2 separate regions of the Homo sapiens genome follow, and region 1 is linked to region 2. Evidence: fine-mapped expression QTL. A gene starts in region 2. The other region holds a variant in brackets. All regions are shown on one strand. Distances are between the middles of the regions.

Region 1 (11,247 bases), 160 kb after region 2:
CCAGTCTGTGTCTTTTAATTGGGGCATTTAGCCCATATACATTTAAGGTTCATATTGTTATGTGTGAATTTGACCCTGTCATTATAATGCTGGCTGGTTATTTTGTACACTAGTTGATGCAGTTTCTCCAAGTGTCATTGGTCTTTACATGTTGGTGTGTTTTTGCAGTGGCTGGTACCGGTTGTTCCTTTCCATATTTAGTGCTTCCTTCAGAAGCTCTTGTAAGGCAGGCCTGGTGGTAACAAAATCCCTCAGCATTTGCTTGTCTGTAAAGGGTTTTATTTTTCCTTCGTTTATGAAACAGTTTGGCTGGATATGAAATTCTGGGTTGAAAATTCTTTTCTTTCAGAATGTTGAGTATTGGTCCCCACTCTCTTCTAGCTTATAGAGTTTCTGCAAAGAGATCTGCTGTTAGTCTGGTGGACTTCCCTTTGTAGGTAACACGACCTTTCTCTCTGGCTGCTCTTAACATTTTTTCCTTTGCTTCAACCTTGGTTGTCTTGAGGTTGCTCTTCTCGAGGAGCATCTTAGTAGTCTTCTCTGTATTTTCTGAATTTGAATGTTGGTCTATCTTGCTAGGTTTGGGACCTTCTCCTGCATAATATCCTGAAGTGTGTTTTCCACCTTGGTTCCATTGTCCCCGTCACTTTCAGGGACCCCAATCAACTGTAGGTTTGGTCTTTTCACAATAGTTCCATATTTTTGGAGGCTTTGTTCATTCTTTTTCAATCTTTTTTCTCTAATCTCATCTTCATGCCTTATTTCAGTAAGTTGATATTCAACCTCTGATATCCTTTCTTCCACTTGATCTATTTGGCTATTGATAGTTATGTATGCTTCATGAAGTTCTCTTGCTATGTTTTTCAGCTCCATCAGGTCACTTATATTCTTTTCTAAACTGGTTATTCTAATTAGCAGTTTCTGTAACCTTTTGTCAAGGTTCTTAGCTTCATTGCATTGAGTTACAACATGCTCCTTTAGCTCAGAGGAGTTTGTTATTACCCACAGTCTACCTCTGTCAATTTGTCAAACTCATTCTCTGTCCAGTTTTGTGTTCTTGCTGGAGAGGACTTGCAATCATTTGAAGGAGAAGGGGCATTCTGGTTTCTGGAATTTTCAGCATTTTTGCACTGGTTTTCCTCATATTTGTGGATTCATCTACCTTTGATATTTGTGGCTAATGACCTTTGGATGGGGTTTCTGTGTGGGGCTTCTTTTTGTTGATGTTGATGTTATTGCTTTCTTTTTGTTAGTTTTTCTTCTAACAGTCAGGTCCCTCTTCTGCAGGTCTGCTGCAGTTTGCTAGAGGTCCACTCCAAACCCTATTTGCCTGGGTATCACCAGCAGAGGCTGCAGAACAGCAAAGATTGCTGCCTGCTCCTTCCTCTGGAAGCTCTGTCCCAGAGGGGCACTGGCCTGATGCCATCTGGAACTCTCCTGTATGAGGTGTTCGTCAACCCCTGTTGGGAGGTCTCTCTCAGTCAGGAGGCACGGGGGTCAGGGACCCACTTAAGGAGGCAGTCTGTCCCTTAGCAGAGCTCAAGTGCTGTGCTGGTAGAACCCTTATTGTCAGGATCCACTGCTGTCTTCAGAGTCGGCAGGCAGGAACGTTTTATTCTGCTGAAGCTGTGCCCACAGCCATGCCTTCCCCCAGTGGCTCTGTCCCAATGAGATGGGAGTTTTATCTATAAGCCCCTGACTGGGGCTGCTGCCTTTCTTTCAGAGAGGCCCTGCCCAGTGAAGAAGAATCTAGAGAGGCGGTCTAGTGTGAGCACAGATTTCTATTCTTAAGACTGAGTATAAGCTAAAAGCTGAATTAGAGTCTCAAGATTCTCTCTCTGTAAGAAGCTGGGTTACAGTCAAGTTTGTTTTGTTTTGTTTTGTTTTTAGAGACCAGGTTCTTGCTCTATCACCTAGGCTGGAGTGAGCAATCATAGCTCACTGTGGCCCTGACTTCCTGGCCTCAAGTGATCCTCCCACTTCTGCCTCCTGAGTAGCTGGAACTACAGCTGTGTATTAGTCTGTTCTCATGTGGCTAATAAAGACATACCCGAGACTAAGTAATTTATAAAGGAAAGATTTTTAATGGACTCACAGTTCCACATGGCTGGGGAAGCCTCACAATCGTGGTGGAAGATGAAGGAAGAGCAAAGAGACGTCTTACATGGCAGCAGGCAAGAAAGCTTGTGCAAGGGAACTCCCATTTATAAAACCATCAGATCTTGCGAGACTTATTCACTACCATGAGGACAGTATGGGGGAACCAGCCCTATGAGTCAGTTATCTCCACCTGGCCCTGTTCTTGACACTTGGGGATTATTACAGTTCAAGGTGAGATTTGGGTGGGGACAAGCCATATCAAGGTGCATGCCACCACACACACCTAACTTTATTTTATTTTTTAGAGATAGGATTGGCCCAGGCTGGTCTCAAACTCCTGGGCTTAAGCAATCCTCCTGCCTCAGCCTCTGGAAGTGCTAGGATTACAGACATGAGCCACAGTGCTAGGCCCAAGCATCTTTGATTGGAAGCTGCCTGCTGTACTGGAAGTCCCGCTCTTTGTTTGCAGTGGAGATGATTCATTCATTCTCTGACTCCTAGGCCTGGCTCTGGGCTGGTAAATTCTTCCTCACTTTGTTTCAAGTGGGGATCCCCTCCCCAAATCCTGGGCTGGAAGATTCTTCCCTGGCTCTTCATGAAGGCTCTCTGTTCTCTATTTGGCCCTGCTCCTCCCACGGGAATCTTTCAGTCCACTGAAACTTCCTTCTTGAACCCTGGCTAACTATATGCTCCACCAGCTCTGTCCATCTTCTTAGTGCATGAGCTGGCTGAGGATAATTTAGAACTTGATTGGTCTTTCTGGGAAACTTAAGACCTCCCCAAAACGGCCCCTCTAAGACCTCCGTCTTCCCATTATTTCCTCCTCCTTCCTCCTCCGACCACCTTTGATCTTCCCTTCAGCTCCCTTGAATCCTTTGATGTGTCCCCTTTAAACTCCTCCCCCTCCTGCCTCTGTCCACCCCCACCAGACATTTCTCTTTCCCAGCCCTTGGCTCCCTCAGCCATTTCAGTCCCCCTGCCCCAATCAGGGGCTCTCAGGGGACTCATGTTATCCCAAAAGCAACTTCCTGAAGCTGAAAAGAAAAAAGCTGATTGGAATTAGATTAAATTTTTATCCACTCACGTGGGCTGTGAGGACATTCAGGCAGCCCCCAGCATCTCCTTAGTAACATGCTTGAAATGTGATCCACAGGCTCCAAGGGATTACATAACAGGGCAGAAGGAAATCTTAAAAATCTCCCCCACAAACACATACACATACACAAAAGCAACACACAATTCAGATACAAATATCAAAGATAAGAGTGTATTAAAATTTTAGAATGGGCCTTGTGCAGTGGCTCATGCCTGTAATCCCAGCACTTTGGGAAGCCGAGGTGAGCAGATCACTTGAGGCCAGGAGTTTGAGACCAGCCTGACCAACAAACTGAGACCCAGTTTCTACTAAAAATACAAAAAGTAGCAAAGTGTGGTGGTGCATGGCTGTAATCCCAGCAATTCAGGAGGCTGAGGCATGAGAATCACTTGAGCCAAGATCAGGCCTGCACTCCAGCCTGGGCAACAGAGCGAGATTATCTCAAAAAAAAAAAAAAAAAAAGGAACGGAAAGCTGTAAGATCTCTATTTGCATTTGTCCATGTATGTATGTGATGTACATGTGATAGTTTTCTATCTCCACATGGTGTTGCCAAAATTAATTAATAAAAGAGCTCTGTCCAGTCTCTACCAAAAATACAAAAAAATTAGCCGGGTGTGGTGGCGGGCACCTGTATTCCCAGCTACTCAGGAGCCTGAGGCAGGAGAATCACTTGAACCTACGAGGCGGAGGTTGCAGTGAGCCGAGATCGTGCCATTGCACTCCAGCCTGGGTGACAGAGCAAGACTGTGTCAAAAAAATAAAAATAAAAATAAGTACTTATATAATTTAAATATTCCTAAAACTCTCAGAAATAAAGGAACTATATTGCTCTTCAAGTTTATATGACTTAGGTAAATCTTTGATATGTAAGATTAGTTTAATATTATTGGCTTAATAAAAACAGTTGTGTCTTCTGAGTTCCAGCATTAAATGTAATATGAGCATACATTTCTATTCAACTTGGGTTTACTAGTTAAATAAGCTAATATTTTATCTACTGGATGTTTAAGAATATGAAAATTGTTAATATAATATGAGAACAAATGTACGAGTAAAGATGCAGTAAAAGTGAATTGCTTGAAGTCCATTATTTCACTTATATCAAACACAATAGTAAAGCAAACACAATAGTAAAGCAAACACAATAATAAAGCAAACACAACAGTAAAGCAAACACAATAGTAAAGCAAAAGCTCTATGTATTTAATAATTTAGGTTTTTATTTTTATGATATTTGTTTAACATGCATGTGCTGTAAAAATAGTTAACAGAGGAAGAATTTGAGATGATGGCTAGCTTTCTTTCTTTTCTTTTCTTTCTTTCTTTTTTTTTTTTTTGGTAGGATCTTGCTCTGTTGCCCAGGCTGGAGTGCAATAGCATGATCACAGGCTACTGCAGGCTCAAACTCCTGGCCTCAGGCAATCCTGCTGCCTCAGCCTCCTAAAGTGCTGGGATTATAGGCATGAGCCACTACACTTGGTGCTAGCTTTGTTTAATACCTGAAAACAATTTTCAAAATCTTTTTGGTAACTTGCAACCTTGGAGTTATGCTAAGTTAAATTAAGTAACAGAAATCCATTAAATGTCTACATTGTTTCTAAGTACAATAAACTACCAAAACATTCATGGCTAAGTGTATTAGTCCATTTTCACACTGCTATAAAGAACTTCCCTGAGACTAGGTAATTTATAAAGGAAAGAAGTTTAATTGACTCAGAGTTCCACATGGCTGGGGAAGCTTCAAGAAACTTAAAATCACGGTGGAAAAGGAAGCAGGCACCTTCTTCACAAGGCGGCAGGAGGGAGAAGAGGGAAAGAGGAACTTCCAAACACTTATAAAACCATCAGATCTCATGATAACTCACTCAGTATCATGAGAACAGCATGGGGGAAATCACCCCCATGATCCTATCACCTCCCTCCCTCGACACGTGGGGATTACTATTTGAGATGAGATTTGGGTGGGGACACAGAGCCAAATCATATCATTAAGATTAAGTTTAAATTTATATACTTTGGAGTTTTTCTTTTTACATGGTATAGGTAGATAAAATACATTTGGATCTGTTAGTAAACATTCTTTTTGTCATATTGAAAAATTTTACTATAAAGAAACAGTATATGTCTCTAGAAATTGTCAGATAGTATATTCATAAAACACTTGTTAGTATTTGTATAGTATTTTGCTAATCTGCTATAGAATACTGGTATGTGATGACAGTTCACAATTGTATGCTTCCTAGTTTTCTCTGTAAAAGAAAGGTTACTAATAGTTAAAATTATAATTAATATATGTAATTAAAACTATTAAAAATAATAAAGCTGGAGGAAAACAACTGCATATGAAAAGTATGCAAGGAAAATCGGATGTGTATGTATGCAAAGAAAGTAAGATGAAGGTATGTTTTTTTGTTAAGAGAAAGAGGGTAATTTTATTTTAATGTATTAATAGAACATCTAGTTGTTCCAGAATGAGAAAGGAAAATGTGGGGCAGGAGGTGAGGGGACCTGAATGGATGTAGAAGCGTTGTGGAAAAGGAATCTTGGAAAAGGAATTTTATGTATGGTCAAGCTGGCTAAGATTTGAATGGATTTATTTATGTTTTTTTAAGCCCTAATATCAGAAGTACGTTGGTGCAAAACTAAAATTTGGTTTTTCTCTCTGTTAAAACAACAAAGTTTTCTTAGAAAGAGGTTGTAAAAGGTTTTTCTTCACCTTTTAAATAATCTGTCTAGGAAAGCAAGATTTTACATATTCTCAGAAGAATCTCCTGTGCTTTATGTTAATCTTTGTCATGTCCTTGATTATTTAAGAGTACCAACACTTGTCACTTTTAAAAGAGCTGAAGTTTTTTTTGTGTGTGTGTGTGACAATTTTGCCTTCCCAAAAATCAAATCCTAAATGAAATCTTGTTCTCAAACTGACTTTGAGATTTCCCAGAGGGCTTCTTGAAAATCTTCAAGGATTGGTTCTTTAATCTTGTAAAAAGAGAAAATATAAAAATAAATTGGTGTATTTGATATGTTTAATGCATGAAAAGATGTTGTCACATAAGAAGGGATGCTTATCCTTTCCTGTGTTATATTTAGGGACATGAATAAGCTGTGGGGTCCTAATAAGGGAAAAAGAATCAGGCTGGTGGGAGCAGGAGAAAGCAAAAAGAAAAGGCAGATAAGCCATGCGTCTGTCCTTCTTCATGGTCCAGGACACACAGTCCTCCTGTACAAATAACTCACAATCTGCCTGTGCCCAGCTATCACCAGACCCTTGCCTGACAGAAAAATGCAAGCTAGCTCACTGCAACCTTGGTATTATCAGTATTGCACGCAGCCCTCTCCATCACAAGCACCATCCTATTAAATCCCCAGCAGTCAGCTCCTCTCTTGCTGATCTGCCTGTTGCTTTCTTGCAATGTATTTTCCTATTTTCGCTAAAAAATTTGCCTTTCTGTACCGACAATTGTCTTGGTAAATTCTTTTACCACCCACACCACCAGCCCCAGCTAGTTGCTATCCATGACATTTGGGTGGCCCATATGAAGACTCTCTCTTCTTACAGGAAACCCTCTCCCCTCTCTCTTTCCCAACCCAGGGCCCTCGGTGGACAGCGTCTAAGCATGGAGACAACTGAAGGTCTCTGGCCGAAGTTACACTCTGGTGGGACTGAAAGGTGTCCATATGAAAGTGTCTAACTGCCACCACCCATCAGGTGAGGGACCTAAGTTTATTTTCTCTTTTCAGTCTTCCAGCAGCCGGCTGCTAGTATCCCTCTAGCAACTAACAGCAACCAGCTGGGGCTGCTACTCAGTGTTGCCTAAAGGCCAAAGGGTGAACAGGGTTGGCTGCCTTGCCTGTGATGGAGGAAAATTCCCTCTTCT[C/T]TCTTTTCTGGCCAAAGGTCCCTAATCCCTATGTATGACATGACTGGCAGCGGTAGCTCATTCAGAGTGACTTCACACACATTTTGGGTGACTCATATCCTCTCTTTCTCACTCTAAATTCTCCTGTGGAGTCACCCAGTCATCTTGCTCTGGATGTTGCTAAATCAGGTGATCCCAGACAGCCTCAGAATGGTACATCTTTCTTTACCCACCCCCTCTCCTGGACTGGCACCAAGCCAAGTTGTTCCTTTACCCTTTTTCCTCATACCTGGGTTAATCACCCAGCATAACAGCATACCTGGACTGGCCATCTGGCATAAGGCACCAGCATGAAGAGGTCTTTTCTAATGGGTGGGACACCCCTTTAGAAAGTGCACCTGAGGCCAGGCGAGGTGGCTCACACCTGTAATCTCAGCATTTTGGGAGGCCGAGGCAAGCAGATCACGATGTCAGGAGTTCAAGTCCAGTCTGACCAACATGGTGAAACCCCATCTCTACTAAAGATACAAAAAATTAGCTGAGCGCGGTGGCGTATGCCTGTAACTCTAGCTACTGGGGAGGCTGAGGCAGGAGAATCACTTGAACCCAGGAGGTAGAGGTTGCAGTGAGCTGAGATCCCCCCATTGCACTCCAGCCTGGGTGACAAGGCGAGACTCCATCTCAAAAAAAAAAAAGAAAGAAAAAAAGAAAATGCACCCAAGTCCCTAAGCAGACATGAGTGAAACCCTTTTCCTCAGTGGGATGCCCCAAGAGAATGTGTGGTTCATGTCCCCAGGAGATGTTAGCCCTGAGTGGCTCATTTTCCAGTCCTTCCGTCGGACCCATCTATTCCTTCAAACTCACTTCTAGGCTGCATTCCAAAGCACTGGGACAAATTCAACCCCCAAACCCTCAAAAAGGAAGGTCTAATTTTCTTGTGAAATAAAGCATGGCCCCTCTGCAGAAAATCCTCAAATTAGTCTCCTCAGTCTTTTGTAACCAAGAGCAGAATAAGGAGGACAGGGCTAAGGAGAAAGAAAAATACAGGGACAAAAGGCAAGCTCAACTGTTGGCTGCTGTACAAGCCCCAGCCCCTCCCCATAGCTCTAAGGAAACTTCTCCAGGTAGTTGCCAGGCCACTGGAAGGCAAACTACCCCAATGGGATAAATGGGAAAAAGCTCTACATGGCTCTGCCACAAGCTCAGCCACTGGAAATGAAGCTTCCTTGAGGGCTGAAGTGCCTCCAGGATGGAATTCCAACCCTTGGTGGCCTTGAACTGAAGGGGCTCTCTGCTCCAGCTGCTTCCAAATCAGACACCACCATCAACACAACAAAACCAAGGGCAACTCTGAAGGTGGCAAGTGAAATTATAAATTTCCCTTTTAAGTTCAAAAGCTACTTACTCTGTACTAATCTTCCCTGAACAACTCTCCTCCAAATTCTGTCAGGTAATGAGGGCAAGCAGCACCTGCTCCCTCCCCCAAAAAATTCACACCCCTTTATATTACTTAAGGAACCAACGACCTTTCTCCCAACAGTCCCTATAGTATCTAAATAACCCAAACTCCTTTGGGACAAAAATATACTTTCCAAAATGGGTGCCTGCTTAATATTTACCCAACTTCTGAATTCATCTTTCCCTCTAATAGCCCTATTTCTCCCAGGAATGCCAGCTAAATCTTTAACCAATAACCTTCACCTAGATAGTCTTACCTCCAGGGTTAAAAATAGCCCACACTTATTCAGACAAACCCTAGCAAGAAATCTAACCAAGCAATCTCTAAGGGGGACTAACTTCTACAGTGTGTAGATCACCTCCTCATTTGCTCCCCCTTCACAGAACTCACACAGCAATGTGCAGTACAAACCTTAACTTCTTAACTAAAGGAAAATAATTGTTGTCTAATCCAAAAGCTATTTAAAAGTTATAGTTGTTCTAACATTGGTTCCCTACATTGAAACAAAATTTTCTTAAGGTATTAATGATGGCAGCAGTGGGCCATCTGGAGTTGACACTGCCATCACACAAGCTGCAGCAGGGAGGCATGGCTGGGGCTTCATGCTCAATGAAGCCAGTAAAGTGGGGGACAAGCAGGAGCCCTACCCCTTCTGAGTTGAAGCAGGAGCTCCTTGGATGCAGCTGCAGCCACCCAAGACACAGTTCCAGTTCCAGACATCCCTGTGCTCCCACTCCATGGAGCAAGCAAGAGCCCTGACCCTGGGATACAGCTGCAGCTGCCCAAACTACACCTGTGGACCTAGGCATCCCTGCACTCTTGGGGGCCCAAGAAGGCCCCCACTGCCCTTGCAGGCTTGGAAGTGCCTGCTCCCACTGCCTGGCTTCTCCCTGCTGTCAGTGCCTGCTCCAATCTTGGAGCAAAGTTGGGGCTGAGCCTGGGCATTGTTGCAGCCTGGCTGGGTGTGCACACACTTGGGGCAGTGCTGACACACCAGGCCCCTGTTACCTCAGAACCCTCCAGATTTTGGGTGCGGATGAGCATGGAAGGGAAGCCAAGGCAGGACTGAGGCCAGCTCAGCAGCGCTGGCCTGCAGGCAGCCTTTGGTATGAACAGCCTGGGCACCATGAACCACAGCAGGAGGCAGACAGCCTCCTGGGCAGAAGGGGGCAAGTCCCAATGAAGCCCCACCTTCAGTCCAGGGAGGGCCTGAAGGCTGGAGGCCAGGCTGCCAGTCCCACGGACTGGAGTGGGAACTTACAGTGCCTTTTCCAGGCCTGCCCATGGCCACCCATGGACCAACTGCTGTGCACTTCCTCCCCTGCAGGCCCATAAAATCCCCAGGCTCAGCCAAACTTGGGCAGATATCAGTATGACCAGCTGCAGAGAGGAGCTACCCACTCCAGGGCCTCCTCTCTGCTGAGAGCTGGGGAGATGACGGGATGATCTGCCTGCAGAGAGGAGCAACCCACTCCAGGGCCTCCTCTCTGCTGAGAGCTGCAGAGACAATGGGATGACCTGCCTGCAGAGAGGAACTTCCTATTCCAGGGTCCCCTCTCTGCCAGGAGCTGAACACTAGTGGGGACAGCCTGGTTGCAGAAAGGAGCTGCCCCCTGCTCATGTGGGAGACTGAGTTGTTCTATCACTCAATAAAGCTCCTCTTTGTTTTGCTCACCCTCCACCTGTCTGTGTACCTCATTCTTCCTTGTCACAGGATAAGAACTTGGGACCTGTTGAATGGTGGGGCTAAAAGAGCATTAACACAAACAGGCCTGAGACATGTCCCTTGCTCACCACATCACGGGGAAAGAGAAGGAGAGAAGAGCTGTGGCCCTTTGAGGAGCCCAGACTTGGGAGCTCCCTGAGCCAGGGCTGTGACTCCCTCTTTGGGCCCCTATGGTTCTTGGTGTCTCCAAGCTTCTGGGTGCCACCATGTACCCTGATGCCCACCATGGAAGTTGCCTGCAGTACACCTGGTCCAGCTGTAGCCTCGCGGAGAGCTGGCCCCCATGCTGGCACCTGGAACTGTCCATCCTGTTGCAGTAGCTGGCATGTCTGACTGTGCGCAGTGGCTGGACCCCATTCTCACTCACACACCCCTTGCTGTTCCATGCCTGACTTGCCCTTGGCAGGCGTGGGACCCAGGCCAGTAACATGAGCCGAGTGCAGCCTGCCAGGCCGAGTGACTGGAACAAGCCCAACAGGCCCAAACAAAACTCAGGCAAAGGTGCCACCAGCCACAGAGGTTTCTGGCCAGAAAAAGCAACACCCCAAAGATCCCATAACATTAATCTACTCTTAATAAAATTGCAAGAAATTTTAGTTTTAATTTTATAAATTAAAAGTATAAATTTTATAAATGTCTTTTTAAAACTTCTCAAAATTATATTTCAGAAGTTCAACTTTTGCTATATCTTGCTGCTTTCAGCTTTTTCTCCTCTGAAGAAGTCTTAAGATAATAACTCCTTCAGTATTTGTCAGGTCCTGTAACTTTTTCTTTCAGTTCTCACTGTTATAATGGCCTAATGCTAAGAAGTTTCATCTTAAAGGTCAAAATTAAGCAATATTCTCCTCTAATATAACTTAATCTTGTACTCTTGGCTTTTCTTAATATGTCAAAATTTGCAATTTAATAAAAACTTTTTATGCTGTTTCTAAAATTCGTGTATTGCCCTGCTATATTCATAACCCTGAACACACTCTTCCTATGTCTATTTACATTCAAACACTTTT
Region 2 (11,247 bases):
TGTAATAGGATCCCATGGAACTGACTTTGCTCAAGGTCACTGGTGAGTCACCAGGCTAGATTTGTTTTGAAGGTCCTGCCTCTTCCTGTCTATCTGCCCATTGCTCTAACCACTCCTGACCCAAACAGTCTGCAGGCAGAAAGGCTTAAAAGGACTTCTGTCCCACCCCGCCTCCCTTCTTGCTGGAGTCCCTCTGAATTAGAGACACTTCCCCAATGCCCCAATCCCTCTTTATGCATCTGTGCAACCTGCTCAGCGTCTCCTCACTGTGACCTTTTTAGCTTCCAGACAGGCCTGCGACACAGGCCTCTTAACAGAGCCCTCTAGTGCCCAGCCAGGTTATCCCACAGACACCAACAGGCCCCGCAGGGCCTGGCAGTGTCAGCTGCCCCAGTCACCACCTATCAGGCACACAGGCTCTCCCTGGAAGGCCCTTGATCTTCCAGTGGCTGCTGTCAATTGTGATTCACCTGACTTCTACTCCCCAACTTCCTCATTCTCCAAAGATGCTTCCTGGGGCTGTTGCCAGTGCCCTTTGGTGGCCACACTTGAGAGGCAGAAAGGCTCAGAAGAAATGACTATCTGCGGCCCCTCTTTCTGGGGTCTAGAGGTGTGAGTCTATCTCCACCCAGGGCCAGGTTGAGAGCTGTGTGAGAAGCAGGCACCGCTTGCAGGGGCAGTGGAGAAAACCCAGGATGAGGTCTTTTTTTTTTTTTTTTAAAGGAAGGGTCTCACTCTGTCACCCAGGCTGGAGTGCAGAGGCACGACGATAGTTCACTGCAGCCTTGAACTCCTGGACTCAAGTGATCCTGCTGGCCTCCTGCTTCAGCCTCCCAAAGTGCTGAGATTACAGGAGTGAACCACCACACCCAGCCCAGGATGGGTTCTTTGGAGCCAGCTTTCATTGGCTAAAGCCTCTGAAGCTTTGTGAATGACAATGGGAGAGTGGCTTTGCCCTGGGATCACCAACTAAAGCCTCAACACTGAGGCGATGAAGTTATGACAAAAAGCACAGCTTTGGCTGGGCTTATGATAAAACTCAACTAGAATAGGAAAGTGATAAGCCTCAGGCAGCTTTGATGGGAAATAAACTCGGAGCTCACTAAGGTGTTGCAGTAAGAGTATGGACTTTGGAGTCAATGTCCACTCAGATTAGCTGAGCAAACTACCTAGCTTCCCTGAGCTGGGACCTTTTGAAGTGGGGCTGAAACAGTACCTACCAAATAAAGATGCTGTTTAGGAGGAAAAAAGCAGGCATGGGGTGTGCTTAGCATAATGTCAAAATGTGGCACTCAGGCAGGGGCTGAGAAATGGTAAGGCTGCTCCAGGGCCTGCTGGCTGCCCAACTCCCATCACCGGCAGAGACCTGGCAGGGTCTGTTCTCCCTCTGGAAGTATCTACATGTGGCCAGGAGCGGTGGCTCATGCCTGTAATCTCAGCACTTTAGGAAGCCAAGGTGGGTGGATCACCTGAGGTCAGGAGTTTGAGATCAGCCTGGTCAACAAGGTGAAACCTCATCTCTACGAAAAGTACAAAAATTAGCTGGGCATGGTGGAGCACCTGTAATTCCAACTACTCGTGAGGCTGAGACAGGAGAATTGCTTGAACCCGGGAGGCGGAGGTTGCAGTGAGCTGAGATGGCGCCGCTGCACTCCAGCCTGGGTGACAGAGCAAGAGTCTGTCTCATTTAAAAAAAAAAAAAAAAAAACTCTATATGCACCACATCTGTGCTTGACAGCTCTGCTCCCTCTTGAGATGTGGAATACTCCAGGCTCTCAGGTCAGGATATCTGTTAGGCCCTGAGGATCAGCACAGTCACACAGGATACTACATGTCTGAAGGCCCACTGGGTACCAAAAAACCAGTAGGTACAAAGAAAAGGGAGAGAAGATGCAATCAAGGACTTCCGGATTCCTTACTGATTCTTCTGTGATAGCTCATGAGGCACCACTGCCAACTCTCCTATTAATGGGCACAAACTGCTCTTAGGAGATGGCCACAGGCAAGCAAGTAGAAACTATACACAGGTTAAGGTCTCTAAATATGTGAGCAAATGTAATGTAAAGGTTAAGAAAACATGCTTTGCAAAAGACAAAACGGAGCCTGAATAATTTCTTTCTTTTTAATTTTTGAGATGGAGTCTCACTCTGTAGCCCAGGCTGGAGTGCAGTAGTGTGATCTGGGCTCACTGCAACCTCACCTCCCAGGTTCAAGCGATTCTCCTGCCTCAGCCTCCTGGGTAGTTGAGGCACCAGCCACTAGGCCTGGCTAATTTTTGTATTTTTAGTTGAGATGGGGTTTCACCATGTTGGCCAGGCTGATCTTGAACTCCTGACCTCAGGTGATCCATCCGCCTTGGCCTCCCAAAGTACTGGGATTACAGGTGTGAGCCTCCATGCCTGGCCTGGCCCGAATAATTTCTTAGAAAGGGTAAATACACATGTGAACAAAGAAGAACCTGCACCAAGAATTTACTTTTTTTTTTTTTTTTGAGATGGAGTCTTGCTCTGCTCTGTTGCCCAGGCTGGAGTGCAGTGGTGTGATCTTGGGCTCACTGCAACTCCTCTACTTCCTGGGTTCAAGCGATTCGCCTGCCTCAGCCTTCAGAGTATCTGGGACTACAGGCGTGTGCCACCACACCCAGCTAATTTTTGTATTTTTAGTAGAGACAGGGTTTCTTTCACCATGTTAGCCAAGCTGGTCTCCAACTCTTGACCTCAGGCAATCCACCCGCCTCGGCCTCCCAAAGTGCTGGGATCAGAAGTGTGAGCCAGTTCCTGGCCTTTCTTTTTTTTTTTTTTTTTTTGAGATGGAGTTTCGCTCTTGTTGCCCAGGCTGGAGCGCAATGGCGCGATCTCAGCTCACTGCAACCTCGGCCTCCCAAGTTCAAGCGATTCTCCTGCTTCAGCCTCCCAAGTAGCTGGAATTACAGATGCCTGCCACCACGCCCGGCTCAAAAATTTACTTTTATTTTTAACATGCCTTCGACAAGGATGCACACCAAAGTGAAATAATTATGAGATTGCTCCTTATGACAGCTGAAGTAAAACAAAGGATAAAAACTATAAATGACACGGCATCATTTTATATTGGCATCAACAGAGGTGGGGTAGTCCCAGCTCTGCCACCCTAAACTGGGTAGCCTTGGGGAGATCCTTCATTTTTCTGAGCCACAGCTAAGCACACCCCATGCAGTGCTAGATTTCGGAGATCTAGCTTTCTAGATCTGATGGGTCTAGTGGTGGGAAGGTGGTATGTGTGCTTCAAAGAAAGCAAGTACAGGGCAATGTGCTAAAAGAAAAACCACCAAGACTCACTCAAGCTTAATGCTCTTTGTGCCATTAGCAACATGACAGAGAAAAGGCTGCATATAAGGCCTCTGTCGTGTGCATAACTTTGGCTTTAATGAGCCAACCCAGCAAAGAGTACCATTAAGGTGAAATCTGGAAACAACCAGTTGTCCCCAACCTTCTACAAAATCACCCTACAGCTTCTAAAACTCAAGAGAGATGCAAAACAGTAAGAGAACACTCAGAGAAAGGCAACATTTGGCCACAAGGATGAGGCTTTTCAGCCTAGACCTGCAGAAGCAGAGTATGGTCCGATGCACAGCGGGGAACTTGGACCTTTTCACCAAATCCCAGTGCCTGAATTCTTCAGGAGGTAACACGCAGATATCTAACAGGAAGTGCTTCTGATAGGCGGTGCAGTAAACATCTGGAATGCATCACAGCCAGGGAATAGCACAGACAGGATAGCACAGAGAGGATATAAGACCTTCAAGATGGCTCAAAAGACCTTGGGGTTGATGAACTATGCTGTTACTAAGGACTGTTTGGGGTACATTGATCATTGTTAGGGTAAAAAGCAGGTGATACAGTCCAGTCCTGTCCTCACACTTCACAATTTTTACTGGAGACAAGAATGGGCAGGATAAACTATGGGGCCCATAGGACCCTCCCATCGTCTGCTGTCTATCTGGCCGGAAAGCATGATGATGAACAAAGCAACCTTGCCTCTGTCAGGCACACCTATAATGGTTCCAAGAGCCACATTCCGACTGTTGTACTGCGGGTGGCAATGGAACGGTCTTCCGATTACCTAAAATGCCACAGATTCCCTTCTTCTCTAATACGCATCCGATTACCATAGAACTCTAAGATATCTTTTAAAACCTAGTCATATTAAAAGTTCCTTTTTCTCCATTAATCAGTCTGCCCCAAAGAAGCTTTTCCGTATTTCACAGGATCCTTAGAAGAGGCCAGCTAACTGTGATACCTAGCACCCTTATCTTTTCTCGATACACAGCGTCCTTCCTCCAGCAGAATCCTAAAATAGCAGCAGTCCGGATTAACATGGCTGTGAGGAGTAGGTGCTTAGCTGAATAACATCAGAATTAATGAGGGGCCGGACCCCAAACAGAGCCACCTGGTGGGCATGAACACCAGGCAGTTATGGGGCCGTTTCCTTCAACCAAGTGTCTGGTCCCTGGCTATCTCTGCTTCAGCCAGAACACATTCTGTCCCCCACCGAGGCTTTAAGGGCCAGCGCGCAGCACCCTCACCTTTCAGCAGGTCCGGGTGCACATAGCCCAACACGTCGGAGACCCCCAGCTCCTGGCGCGAACAGGTGCCTCCGTGGATGTGCAACCAGGCGGGCTCGGCGAGGGCAGTGCACAGCGCCGTGATAGACAGGGCGCCAGGCAGGGCCGAGGCCAGGCTACGCTCCGGCTGCTTGGGCAGAGCGCTGCCTCCCGGGCTCCTCCGCCGGCGCCCGCCGGGCAGCCCTGCGCCTCCGGGGGCGTACATGCCCGGGGCCGCCCGCCGTCGCTCCGCAGTCGCTGCTGGTCGCCGCCGACCTCCGCGGGGCGCGCAGAGCCTGACAGTCCGGTGGAGGATAGCAACGCTCCGGGTTCGCTGCAGGTGAAGCCGGGACTGGGCTGTCAGGGTTGACACCAGAGGATAGGGGGGTGGGACCCGGGGCTGACGGAGACGGGGAGGGCTGCGGGAATTCGGGGGGCGGAGACAGGAGACTCCGGAATGGGACTGCGGGACGACAACCGAAGAGGGCCAGGGGCCAGATGGGGTCTGGGCAGACTCGAGTGGGGGGCGGAGGGATCGGGGATCGGCTACTGCTAGAGCAAAGACCCGGAGTCAGGGTCTCAGCCAGAGGATGCCGAGGGGCGGAGGACCGGGCTGGGCCGCGGGGATCGGGGACCCGTGATCTGGGACCGGCGGTTTGGGGTGCGACCTGTGCGCAGAAAAGACCCTCCCCACGCCGCCCACTGTTCCTCACCAGTCAGCAGGCCCCAGGGCTGGGATGGTGCTGCTCAGCCCAGTCACGGGCTTCTCGGCTGCCGGGGGCCGAGCGTTCCCAGGCCCCAATCCCGCAACGCCCGGACAGACCCGGGGCCGATGCACTTCCGGCTTCCTCCTCCTCTGCCTCCGCCTCCTCCGGCTCCCCGCCCCGTCCCCCGCGCGCGTCACAGCCTGGGCGCGCCGCCGGCTCTGCGCAGGGCCTCACGGGACTGGTAGTTCGAGGCGGTCCCGCGATGCTTTCCCTGCCGAGGTGAGGGGAGCGACTACAACTCCCAGAGGGTATGGCGGCCGCAGCAGTGGGCAGTTGAGTTTCCGGGGCGACCCAGGTCCTCCGGCGGAAGCGGGAGCCTCTGTCGGCCGCGGAAGCCTGGAGTGGGCGGTACGCAGACGCGCGCGGTGAGACCCGCTGTCTGCTCAGCGGACTCTGCCCGCCCCCACCTCCCCCTGCGTCGGGCCGACATGAAGGACTCGCTGGTGCTGCTGGGCCGTGTCCCGGCGCACCCGGACTCCCGCTGCTGGTTCCTGGCCTGGAACCCCGCGGGGACCCTGCTGGCCTCGTGCGGCGGCGACCGGAGAATCCGCATCTGGGGCACGGAGGGTAAGGCCCAGCCTGGTTGCGCGGCCCTCAGCGCTGAGGGCTCAGCCTGCGCGTAGTGCAGGCGCTCAGCCTGCAGGGGAGGCTGAACCTGTTCCTGGCGGAGGGAGAGTGGGATGTTAGCCACGCCGAGAAGGGCTTTACAGGCAAAGAAGTCTGCGACTGTTGGGAGGAAAAACGTCAGCAGACAAGCTGAAATGTCAAGGGAATTGTGTTAGCTGCAGAGGCAGGAAAATGGGAAAAGAGAGGTGTTAGGAAAGTGGCCTTCAGAGTAACTTGCGACTGGATGGTCACATTTTATCCCGAGGGCATTGGGGAACCAATAGCAATTTTAGATCAGATTTGTTTTAGAAAGATGCCTCCAGAGGTTGGGCGCGGTGGCTCACGCCTGTAATCCTAGCAGTTTGGGAAGCAGAGGCGGGTAGATCACCTGAGGTCAAGAGGTCAAGACCAGCCTGGCCAACATGGTGAAACCCCGTCTCTACTAAAACTACAAAATTAGCTGGGCGTTGTGGCGGGCACCTGTAATCCCAGCTACTCGGGAGGCTGAGGCAGGAGAATCCCTTGAACCCAGGAGGCGAAGATTGCAGTGAGCCGAGATTGTGCCATTGCACCCCAGCCTGGGCATCAGAGCAAAAACTCCGTCTCAAAAAAAAAAAAAAAAAAAAAAAAAAGCTTCCAGACGAAGTAGATTCATTTGCATCTTTGTAAAAGCTGTGAAATACACTCCCTGAGCTTTCCCCCACTAGCTTGATTCCAGTGCTAGCCCCTGATATTGAATGGCTTCATGGTGCTGCACCCAGCTCCAGAGCCTGGCCTGCGCTCCGCCTTTAGGTGACAGCTGGATCTGCAAGTCTGTCCTTTCTGAAGGCCACCAGCGCACCGTGCGGAAGGTAGCCTGGTCCCCCTGCGGTAATTACCTGGCCTCTGCCAGCTTTGATGCTACCACTTGCATTTGGAAGAAGAACCAGGATGACTTTGAGGTACCCAGGCTGGTTGGGACCAGAATTATTGCCTGTTTCCTCCCCAGGGCTGGTTCAGGAACCTGAGCCAACCTGCGCCAGTTGGGCTGTACCCATGGGAAGGGGCTTAGGGGTGTTAGCTGCTGTTAATTCTCATTTTCTTTCCCCTTTCACAGTGTGTAACCACTCTCGAGGGCCATGAAAATGAGGTCAAGTCAGTGGCTTGGGCCCCATCTGGCAACCTCCTGGCCACTTGCAGCCGAGATAAGAGCGTTTGGGTCTGGGAAGGTGAGGCCAGGTCCCTCCAGGTGGATTGGGAACCACCTGACAGCCCCCTCTGTGTCCCTGACAGGGTCGGCTCTTGGGTCCCCTTTTTCTCTCCCACAGTTGATGAAGAGGATGAGTATGAATGTGTCAGTGTTCTCAACTCCCACACACAGGATGTCAAGCATGTGGTTTGGCACCCAAGTCAGGAGGTAAGAGTCAAGCAGGGACTCTTGTGGGAAGGGCTCTGGTGTGCAGGCTTGTGCCCAGCCTTCCTCTGCTTTTCAGCCTTAATCTAGCTTTTACGGAGAGTTCCATCTGTGAACAAAAAACATTAGTCCCTTTATAAAAACAGATCCGGCTGGGTGTGGTGGCTCACACCTATAATCTCAGCACTTTGGGAGGCCATGGTGGGTGGATCATCTGAGGTCAGGAGTTCGAGACCAGCCTGGCCAACATGGTGAAACTCCGTCTCTACTAAAAATACAAAATTAGCGGGCATGGTGGCACATGCCTGTAATCCCAGCTATTCGGGAGGCTGAGGCAGGAGAATCACTTGAACCCAGGAGACGGGGGTTACGGTGAGCCGAGATCGTGCTATTGCACTCCAGCCTGGGCAACAACAGCAAACTTCATCTCAAATAAATAATAAAATAAAATAAAAGCAGATACCTGGAACTGACCTGTCCTTTGCTTCCTGGGCCACACAGACACATGTTGGGTTTCCTTTCACTCTTCCCCCAGCTCTTAGCTTCTGCCAGCTATGATGACACAGTGAAGCTGTACCGGGAGGAAGAGGATGACTGGGTATGCTGTGCCACCCTTGAGGGCCATGAATCCACTGTGTGGAGCTTGGCCTTTGACCCGAGTGGCCAGCGCCTGGCGTCTTGTAGTGATGACCGTACTGTGCGTATCTGGCGTCAGTATCTACCAGGCAATGAACAAGGTGAGGTCCATTAGTAGAGCTAAAGAAGACCCATCTCTCAAGGGGTTCACAGTCTGCTAAGACACGTACATGAGTCAGAGCAAATGGGGGTAAAAGGTAAGATGTGCTACAAGAGGGCTCTGGATAGAGTGCTGGAAGAATCAGGAAAGTTTTGTAGAATGGGTTGTTTCATCTGAATTTAAAAGGGTATGTAGGATTTTAACATGAGAATTTCACGTGAGAATTCAAGTGAAAACTCAACAGTGTGAGTAAAGATAACAATGGCGGGAATGCTTAGACTGAGGGGTGGTAATGCATTTAAATGGGGCATAGGACGTCTGGGGTTTGGAGAGGAATAAAGTGGGTTGGGTCGGCTGGTGGGTGGCCTTCACAGGCACGCAAAGTAGTTACATACAGTCTGCAACAGAACAGGGATGTTTCCTCGGAATTCTGCTTGAGAAACGCCAGTCTGGCTATAGTGTGTAAGGCAGATAAGCAGGGATGGGGACACGAACGGAGACACAGACTCATAATCAGTTGAAGATGAGGGTGAGGGAAGGTAAGTTAGGTTCTCCTTTGAGGTGCCCAGGACATAGGAACGTTTAAGGGCAAGAGAAGTCTGTCTTGCAGGGGTGGCATGCAGCGGCTCTGACCCCAGTTGGAAATGTATCTGTACTTTGTCCGGCTTCCACTCAAGGACCATTTATGACATTGCTTGGTAAGACTCCATCCCCCCACCCCATCCCATCCCCATAAATCAGGGATTTTAGAGAAGGCATACCCTATGCAGTCCTCTGCAACCCTGGGGGAGTGCTTGGGAATTGAGGGCAGCCACCCCCATTCCTTATCAGGCCTGACTCTACCATGCTGGTTTACAGCTGGCTGGGCTGGCATTCACAGGAGCAGAGAACAGTCCCAGGCTGTGAGGGTAGCACCAGCGCTAGAGGTTCGCACAGCTCGTGCTGTCCAGAAGTTATTATTGAATCTGCATTCGTGGCTGAGGGTTTTTTTTTGTTTTTTTGTTTTTTGAGACAGAGTCTCACTCTGCAGCCCAGGCTGGAGTGCGGTGGCGTGATCTCATCTCACTGCAAGCTCCGTCTCCCGGGTTCACACCATTCTCCTGCCTCAGCCTCCCAAGTAGCTGGGATTACAGGCGCCCGCCACCATGCCTGGCTAATTTTTTATTTTTAGTAGAGACGGGGTTTCACCGCGTTAGCCAGGATGGTCTCGATCTCCTGACCTCATGATCCGCCCACCTTGGCCTCCCAAAGTGCTGGGATTACAGGCATGAGCCACCGCACCTGGCAGTGGCTGGGGTTTTTATAGGTAACACTGACTCTGGCCTTGTGGAAGCTGGAAAAGCTGCACCATTCATATAGGAGAGTAGGTTAGAGGGTAGTTCTGGCCCTGAGAATTGATCCCTAGGAAATCCAAAACAGTGAAAAAAACTGAGCACTTAAGCTTGCTTTATATTAGCAAACATTTGGGAATCACCTATTCAACAAAAGTGAACTTAAGTAAATTATGGTAGAACTCAGCTTGTTGTATCACTGTTTAAAGAAAGGGGTTAAGAATACTTTATGATGGGGCCAGGCGCTGTGGCTCACGCCTGTAATCCCAACACTTTGGGAGGCCAAGGTGAGTGAATCATGAGGTCAGGAGTTCAAGACCAGCCTGACCAACATGGTGAAACCCCGTCTCTACTAAAAATACAAAAATTAGCTGGGCGTGTTGGCACGCACCCAATCCCAGCTACTCAGAGGCTGAGGCAGGAGAATCGCTTGAACCCGGGAGGCGGAGGTTGCAGTGAGCCGAGATTGCGCCACTGCACTCCAGCCTGGTGATGGAGCAAGACTCCATCTAAAGAAAAAAAAAAAAAACTTTATGATGGCTGGGCCCAGTGGCTCATGGCCTGTAATCCCAGCACTTTGGGAGGCTGAGGCAGGTGGATCACTTGAGGTCTGGAGTTTGAGACCAGCCTGTCCAATGTGATAAAACCCTGTCTCTACTGAAAATACAAAAATTAGCCGGGCATGGTGGCACATGCCTGTAGTCCCAGCTACTCAGGAGGCTGAGGCAGGAGAATCGCTTGAACCTGGGAGGGGGAGGTTGCAGTCAGCCAAGATTGTGCCACTGCACTCCAGCCTGGGCGACACAGCAAGACTCCATCTCAAAAAAAAAAAAAAAAAAACAACTTTATGACATGGGAAACTGCTTATGCCAAGTGAGGAAAGTGCAGTTCATAATTGCATGTCGTTTTTTAGGATAATCATAGTAGGGGAAAGAACTAGATTGCAGCATCTGAAGATATAAGTGGGTGATATTTGTGACTCCTTATTAGTTAAGGAAACATTTTAATAAGAGGTTTTTAGCTGAGGCCTGAAGTTAGGGAAGAGAACAGGCCAGGAACTATGGAACAGGTCTCTCTGGCCTAATTAGTCAGGTATACCCACTGATGTCACTTTCCTTCCAGGTGTCAGCTGACAGGGGCTCTGGCCACAGCTTGTGGGGATGACGCGATCCGCGTGTTTCAGGAGGATCCCAACTCGGATCCACAGCAGCCCACCTTCTCCCTGACAGCCCACTTGCATCAGGCCCATTCCCAGGATGTCAACTGTGTGGCCTGGAACCCCAAGGAGCCAGGGCTACTGGCCTCCTGCAGTGATGATGGGGAGGTGGCCTTCTGGAAGTATCAGCGGCCTGAAGGCCTCTGAGCTACCTCGACTTTGGACAGAGTAATGACTCCCCAGAAAACGTCATATAAGACTTTACCAGCCCCTGAGAGGACCAGGAGGAGCATCCTTGACCTTCATTTAACTTGGCTCACTTCTCTTCAGACTTGGGTAGAAGTGCAGAGCCACAGAATTGCTTTCCTTCCCCGCCTTTGACATGAGGCCTTCAGTAAAGAGCTACAGAACATGAGTACATTGTTATACCACAGATTTTTCTTGCATTAGGGCACAGTGTTAAATTTTTTGGAGGTAAATATACTATTTATAATCACTATATATAGTAGGAGGGGGTATGTGTCTCAGGCTTTTCTGAAGTTGCAAGACTTAAAGAAATAATCCATCTGCATCCCAAGTCCTATTTTATAAGGATATTCATAAAAATTCCATGGTGAATCCTTGTCTGAAATAGGTCCTCCCTTCCCAGTTTCTGTGTAAGTCTTTGCATTTAAGA

Evidence for each region. PIP is the estimated chance that this variant, and not a neighbour inherited with it, causes the effect.
Region 1: its variant is fine-mapped to the expression of CIAO1 in whole blood (TOPMed, PIP above 0.99).

What each region holds. Positions count from the first base shown.
Region 1 is chr2:96,420,907-96,432,153 of GRCh38, forward strand. No RefSeq gene overlaps it. Among named protein-coding and RNA genes, the nearest start is that of NEURL3, 79 kb to the right of the region's middle. RefSeq lists enhancers at 922-1,423, 6,550-7,749. The variant C/T (reference allele first, on the strand shown) is at 7,077.
Region 2 is chr2:96,260,574-96,271,820 of GRCh38, forward strand. CIAO1 (cytosolic iron-sulfur assembly component 1) reads left to right here and starts at 5,652. Exons shown (of 7, transcript NM_004804.3): 1 at 5,652-5,916; 2 at 6,748-6,896; 3 at 7,052-7,163; 4 at 7,263-7,351; 5 at 7,884-8,085; 6 at 8,695-8,782; 7 at 10,538-11,247. The coding sequence starts at 5,778. The coding sequence ends at 10,778. TMEM127 (transmembrane protein 127) reads right to left here and starts at 5,424. Exons shown (of 4, transcript NM_017849.4): 1 at 5,296-5,424; 2 at 4,565-4,939. The coding sequence starts at 4,808. RefSeq lists enhancers at 1-779, 1-893, 5,544-5,733, 5,964-6,243, 6,841-8,040 and 1 more and silencers at 4,684-4,993, 5,044-5,253, 5,264-5,313.